Homo sapiens: one gene and its partner. Each later gene encodes a partner of the first gene's protein in a complex. Each region holds a gene or a part of one and is shown in the gene's direction. Other genes may lie near its edges.

The links.
Region 2: the proteins of WNK3 (region 1) and KLHL3 are in contact, whole or in part, in a crystal structure (PDB 5NKP), measured with the Homo sapiens proteins. Residues at the interface, in NP_065973.2 of Homo sapiens: Glu537, Cys538, Glu539, Glu540, Thr541, Glu542, Val543, Asp544, Gln545, His546; in NP_059111.2 of Homo sapiens: Lys312, Arg339, Phe355, Gly357, Arg360, Thr386, Phe402, Gly404, Ser405, Gly407, Ser432, Ser433, Tyr449 (codon at 950), Gly451 (codon at 956), Arg454 (codon at 965), Cys456 (codon at 971), Ser481 (codon at 1,046), His498, Arg528, Tyr577.

Annotation. Positions count from the first base shown.
Region 1 is NC_000023.11:54,246,442-54,250,195, reverse strand, and holds part of WNK3 (serine/threonine-protein kinase WNK3), read left to right. Parts: intron 1-64; coding exon 65-202; intron 203-561; coding exon 562-1,499; intron 1,500-3,754.
Region 2 is NC_000005.10:137,631,338-137,635,091, reverse strand, and holds part of KLHL3 (kelch-like protein 3), read left to right. Parts: intron 1-926; coding exon 927-1,055; intron 1,056-3,754. UniProt on the Homo sapiens protein: Substrate-specific adapter of a BCR (BTB-CUL3-RBX1) E3 ubiquitin ligase complex that acts as a regulator of ion transport in the distal nephron.

The DNA of each region.
Region 1 (3,754 bases):
AGTCAATAAGGTAAATAAATTGAAAATAGCTTAGCATATTATTTTTTGCTAATTATTTCTGCAGATGAATCTGCTCCTCAGTCATCCCCAGTTGGTCGGTGGCGATTCTGTATCAATCAGACGATAAGAAACCGTGAGACTCAGTCTCCTCCTTCTCTTCAGCATTCCATGTCTGCGGTTCCTGGCCGACATCCACTTCCTAGTAAGCTTTTCTTCTCTGCCAGCTTTGTCCAGACTCAAAGGATGGGATGCAAAATACATATGATATCTTTAACTGGTTTCCATGGGAATTTTATGCTTATGAGAATTTTCATAAGCTTTTTTGAAGACATTAATATTAGGATACAACTTAAGCCATTTCCTATTTAATATTTATGAGAAAAAAGGAAAACATTATTTCCCTTGACAGGTTGAATTCTGTGTTTTGAGTCTTATTTACGAGAGTACTTTCACACAGGTTCTCATTTGCCCCTTTGTCCTCCTGTTCCTTTTGACTTAGGGTACTAGTCTGTGCTTTGTACTCGTCAGTACGTGCTTAGCCATTCTTTATTATTGTTCCAGGTCCAAAAAACACAAGTAATAAGGAAATATCACGGGACACATTGCTCACTATAGAAAATAATCCATGCCACCGTGCACTTTTCACCTCCAAATCAGAACACAAGGATGTGGTTGATGGTAAGATTTCTGAATGTGCTAGTGTAGAAACCAAGCAGCCAGCTATACTTTATCAAGTGGAAGATAACAGGCAGATAATGGCACCAGTTACTAATAGTTCCAGTTACTCTACTACTTCAGTTCGTGCAGTTCCAGCTGAATGTGAGGGACTCACCAAACAAGCAAGCATATTCATACCTGTGTATCCATGTCACCAAACTGCCAGTCAGGCTGATGCACTTATGTCCCATCCTGGCGAATCAACTCAGACTTCTGGTAACTCTCTTACAACTCTGGCATTTGATCAAAAGCCTCAAACCTTATCAGTACAGCAGCCAGCTATGGATGCAGAGTTTATTTCTCAAGAAGGAGAAACTACAGTGAACACTGAAGCAAGTTCTCCTAAGACAGTCATTCCCACTCAGACCCCTGGCCTTGAACCAACTACCCTTCAACCCACTACTGTCCTGGAATCAGATGGAGAAAGACCTCCAAAACTGGAGTTTGCAGACAACCGAATTAAAACTCTGGATGAAAAATTAAGAAACTTGCTCTATCAGGAGCACAGCATCTCTAGCATCTATCCCGAGAGTCAGAAGGATACCCAAAGCATAGACTCTCCATTTTCTTCCTCTGCTGAAGATACCCTCTCCTGTCCAGTGACAGAAGTCATAGCCATCAGTCACTGTGGAATTAAAGATAGCCCTGTACAATCCCCTAATTTCCAACAGACAGGCTCTAAGCTTCTGTCCAATGTGGCTGCAAGTCAGCCTGCTAATATATCAGTGTTCAAAAGGGACCTGAATGTGATAACTTCTGTACCCAGCGAATTGTGTTTACATGTAAGTATCATTCTTTCTAACCAATTCCTTACTCTTTGCTTATTGTTTTAAAGAAATGCCTTCTCTTCTAAAATTCTGTCCTTTGAGATGAAATGGTCTATGTCACAAGATGCTGAGGTCACAGGTATTTAAGAAGGCTATGACTTAGGCTGCAGGTGTTCAGAACCTCTCAGTAGAGATGACAAACTATCTTTGGTAAGAGAGCCCTCTGGTGAATTAGCTAAGAACTTGCAAGCAGTGTCTATATTTGTATTAATGACAGAATGAAAACTGACTCATGGATTGTTTTAGTGGGTAGGAAGAACTTTTAGATTTTCACTTAAAATGCCAGTTATCCGTTTCCTTCTTTAAAAAAAAAAGTTATGGTTTTTAATTTAATCATGTTTGGGGGGATTTAATTTGACAAAAAAAGAGAAGAAAAGAAAGTAAAAATCATCATTAATACCATGACTTTTTTTTTTTTTTAAACCCTAGACGGAGTCTTGCTCTGTCGCCCAGGCTGGAGTGCAGTGGCATGATCTCGGTCTGCCTCCCGGGTTCAAGTAATTCTCCTGCCTCAGCCTCCTGAGTAGCTGGGATTACAGGCACGTGCCACCACGCCCGGCTAATTGTTGTATTAGTAGAGACGGGGTTTTACCATGTTGGCCAGGCTGGTCTCGAACTCTTGACCTCGTGATCCACCTGCCTTGGCCTCCAAAGTGCTGGGATTACAGGCATGAGCCACTGTGCCTGGCCTGACTTATTTTATGAGTTATATAATGTAGGAACTTTAATTTTCCTTTTCTGCCCCTTCAAATCACAAAAGTAACCACTAATAATTTGATGCTTATTCTTCTTGACTTTTCTTAAGCTTATACAGATCTATTTACATACATATAACATTATATTCATAAAAATACTGTGCTGTATACATACTGTTCTGCAACTTAATTTTTTCATTTTACAGTAGATCATGGACATCTTTCTAAATCTTTATTGCTGTATCTTTTTGTCATTTTTGTTATTATATAAGTAATAATATATACTTGTACATAGTATATATGTACTACGTACAAGTAAAATCCACCCCATCCCCAAACCTGTAGACACAGCTGTTAACAAATCTTTCCAGACATGATTTTAATTAATATACAAATATTTATAAAGACATACTTTTTATATATGATATATTGTATCTTTATATAGATATAGATACATGTTAATATTTATATACATATACTTATTTACATATATGCTATTCTGCATTTTTTTCATTTATGGGTATCTATCCATGTCAGTACACATAGTTCCATCTTACTCAACTTTTTGAAACAACTGCATAATATTCCACTGATACATATAATTTAAAGATTTAAAAATTTTTTAAATTATTTTAAATAATAAATATCACATAATGTGATTCGAATCTTAAGAAATGAACTGTTATTTCTGTCATTTAAACTTTGTTGCTTGAAGGAGACTCTCCCAAGTGTCAAGGTCAAATGAATTCATTTATTTGTTTCAAGTGTCTGTTGCTATATCTGGATCATACTTAGCTGCCACTGTTTCTGGTGTCATGGAATTCTTCTTTTTTCCCCTAAAATACTTCTATGAGTAATATTTTCAAATATATTGCATGAGTATCCTATTTGGTATTCTTTTGCATGTCCAAAAATGTCTTTATATTGCTTCACACTTGATTGACTAAGTACAGATGGTAGGATCAGAATTTTTTCTTCTCAATTTAGAAGACAGTGTTTTATTGTCTTTTATTAGCCTTCCTGATGAGAGTGATGTCAGTTGTTTATCATTCATTTGTAGGTAACCTGTTTTTACTCTAGACCACTGCAATGCTCTTGTACTTTTTACAACGTGGAAATGTTCTGTATCTGCACTATCCAATACAGTAACCACTAACCAGATATGACTATTGAGCACTTGAAATGTGACTAGTGCAACTGAGGGCCTGAATTTTTAATTTAATTTAATTAATTTAAATTTAGACAGCCACATGTGATTAGTGGCTACTGTATTCAGTTAGCACAGGTCTAGTTGCTCTTAGGGAACTATCTTAGAGCTCTGATTATCAGACTGTATCTTGGTATATCACTTTCCCATTCATTTTGTATATCACTTTTGTGGATGTTTCGAATTTGAAGATTTGTGTCTTTTTTCAGCTCCGGTAACTATTTTCATTTCTTTTTTTTCTTCCCCTTCATTGTCTTGCTTATTTCCATTTAGAAATTGTAGGAGATATATGGCCTCTTGGATTATTC
Region 2 (3,754 bases), on another chromosome or scaffold:
AGCACATGTGACCAAAAAATCTACTGAGTAAGTAATCCTGTTAAATAGATTTGCATTTGGTGATATTTATTTAGTCTACAGCTAGTGTGACTCCTCCCCCTGTTCCCACAGAAGAGACCATCCCATTGCATTTTAAGACTAAATTTTAAACCCAAAATGTTTGAATTTCTGCTTTGGGATAGCTCAAATGCCAAATTTTTCCTCCTGTGTCCAACCTCACTCTCAGCCCTCAGCCCCCAGCCCCAGGCAGAAATGATGCTCTTGGGTAGCAGCTTAATGGTATTTTAATTTAAAAGTAAATGACGGCACCTCAGGGCTCTTGTGCATGGCTCAGAGATCACAGGGTAGTCTGCAGAAAAATTCCAGCCACCCTGGCCCACAATGTACAAAGAACACTCCATTCACACACTCTACCTGCCAAGGTTGTGGAAGGGGTAGAGACAATGGCTAAGACAGGTTTTGGGTTCTCATTGAATAATAATTTTCCATATTTACTTCATCTGCTATGTCAAGCCTTTAGCCAGAAAGATGGTCTGCCTGCCTATAGCTGGGGGCCTTCTAGCTTTCCATCTATCTGGTGCTGGTGTCTTGTTCTAGAGAAAATTTAACCTAATTCATCAGCAAGATTATGTTGAGCCCCAGTGGTGCCAGGCCATAGCTTTGTGCTGGGTATTTGCGGGTACTTATTTAGAAAGACGTTAAGTGTTTGCTTCTAAGGAGCTCATGGCTTAAGAGCAAGTAGAATATGTGAAGAAATGTGAAGGATGCTTTGCTTGGTTGAGGAGTAAGTTGGTGGTCCCCTGGAGAAAGAGGGAACAGAATTCTGAGGTAAGGGTGCCCCAGTTGGTTGCAGATAGGGTTTCAGCTGAGCTCTGGTTTCATGCCAGTATCCCTGGCACCACACTCAGCCACTTTGTCTATTGCAGGGAAGCTATATGCTGTTGGGGGTTATGATGGAGCTTCCCGCCAGTGTCTGAGCACTGTGGAGCAGTACAACCCAGCGACCAATGAATGGATATACGTGGCGGACATGAGCACCCGCCGCAGTGGCGCAGGTATGGGAGAACCTCGGGGTGCTGGCTGTGTCTGATTTGCTCACAAGTGGGTCCTTAAATTTTTTTGTTTTATTTTAGATTTAGAGGGTACATGTGCAGGTTTGTTACATGGATATATTGCATAATGGTCGAGTTTGGGCTTCTAGTGTACCCATCACGCAAATAGTGACCATTGAACCCAATGGGTAATTTTTCAACTTTCACCCTCCTCCCAGACTTATCCCTTTTGGAATCCCCAGTGTCTATTGTTCTCATCTTTATGTCCATGTATACCCATTATTTAGCCTGTACATATAAGTGAGAACATGCAGTATTTGATTTTTTGTTTCTGGGTTATCTCACATAGGATTATGGCCTCCAGCTCCATCCATGTTGCTGCAAAGGACATGATTTCACTCTTTTTTTGGTTGCATAAGATTCCATGGTGTATACATACTATATTTTCTTTAATCAGCCATTGATGGATACTTAGATTGATTATATGACTTTGTGGTAGTCAGTAGTGCTGCTTTAAACATAATAACTGTACATGTCTTTTTAATATAATGATTTCTTTTCCTTTGCATAGATACCCAGTAGTGGGATTGCTGGGTCAAATGGTAGTTATATTTTGAGTTCTTTGAGAAATCCCCATACTGTTTTTCCATAGAGGTTGTATTAATTTATATTTCCACAACAGTGTATAAGCATACCCTTTTCTCTGCAACCATGCTAAAGTCTTTTTTTTTTTAAACTTTTTTTTTTTTTTTTTTTTTTTTGAGATGAAGTCTCACTCTGTTGCCCAGGCTAGAGTGCAGTGGCGCTATCTCGGCTCACTGCAAGCTCCGCCTCCCGGGTTCCGCCATTCTCCTGCCTCAGCCTCCCGAGTAGCTGGGACTACAGGCACCCACCACCATGCCCGGCAAATTTTTTGTATTTGTAGTAGAGTTGGGGTTTCACCCTGTTAGCCAGGATGGTCTCAATCTCCTGACCTCATGATCCACCTGCCTCGGCCTCTCAAAGTGCTGGGATTGCAGGCATGAGCCACTGCACCCGGCCTTTTTTGACTTTTTAGTAATAGCCATCTGTAAGATGATATCTCACTGTGGTTTTAATCTTCATTTTTCTGATGATTACGATGTTAAGCATTTTTTCATATGATTATTGGCCACACTGGCATGCCTTATTTTGAGAAATGTCTGTATGTATATCCTTTGCCTGCTTTTTAATGGGGTTGTTTTTTCCTTGTTGAGTTGTTGGAGTTCCTTGTATATTCTGAACATTAATCCTTTGTTGGGGGGCATAATTTGCAAATATTTTCTCCCATTCTGTAGGTTGACTGTTTGTTGATTATTTCTTATGTTGTGGAGAAGCTTTTTTTGTTTGTTTAATTAAGTCCCATTTGTCTATTTTTGTTTTTGTTGCACTTTCCGTTTGGCATCTTAGTCATAAATTGTTTGCCTAGGCCAATGCCCAGAAGAGTTTTTTCTAGGTTTTCTTCTAGGACTTTTATAGTTTCAGGTCTTATATTTAAGTCTTTAATCCATCTTCAGTTAATTTTTGTATATGGTAAGAGATAGAGGTCTAGTTTCATTTTTCTGTATGTGGCTAGCCACATACAACACCATTTATTGAATAGAGAGTCTTTTCCCCATTGTTTTATTTTTGTCGACTTTTTTGAAGATCAGCTTGTTATAGGTATGTGGCTTTGTTTCTGGGTTCTCTATTCTGTTCCATTGTTCTCTGTGTCTATTTTTGGTACCAGCACCATGCTGTTTTAGTTACTATAGCCTTGTAATATAATTTGAAGTCAGGTAATGTGATACTTCTGACTTTGTTCTTTTTGGTTAAGATTGGCTTTGGCTATTCGGGCTCTTTTTTGGTTCTGTATAAACTTTAGGATTGTTTTTTCTAATTCTATGAGGAATGATGTTGATAGTTTGATAGGAATTGTGTTGAATCTGTAGATTCCTTCAGGGAATATGGTCATTTTAATGATATTGATTCTTCCAATCCATGAATATGGGATGTTTTTCCAGTTTGTGTAATCTGTGATTTCTTTAATCAGTCATGAGTGGGTATTGGTTCAACAACTTAACATTTTATTTTACCTCCTCCTCCTCCTTTCATTTTGCTGTATATAATCCTACTAGCACCTTTGCAGCTAGACACAGTACTTTATAAGTTAACCTTTCCTGGGGGATCACTAGAGAATGGATGAGATAATACGCTCCTCCTCATCATACCTTATGTTTCTATGAAGGTGTTTATATCTTTTGAAAGTTAAGGCTTACTATGTGCCAGGCACTGTCCTAACAAGTACTTTTTATGCCTCAATCCATTTAATCCTCACTGCAGCCCTACGAGGTGGATACAATATGAATTGCACTTATCAGATTTAGAAAGGAGGTCTGCCAGTGGTTGAGTAATTTGCCCAAGGTCATATAATTAGTAATGCTGACTCCAGAGTTAGCTTTTTAAATCCCTAAATTATCAGTCTTATTCCTCTGAAGTAGTAGGACAAGTCTTCAGTTGACAAAGCTGAGCTTGCCTGTCTGGAATTGAAAGCCAAGCTATTAGTGTTCATGTCTGGAGATAACTTATGTCCCCCACTCCCACTTTTCCTCACTTCAACCTATTCCCCAACATGTGAAGAAAATGACTTTTCAAAAGGTTTTCCACTTCTACTTTTTGTCAGAAAACCAGAAGCTCTATGATCC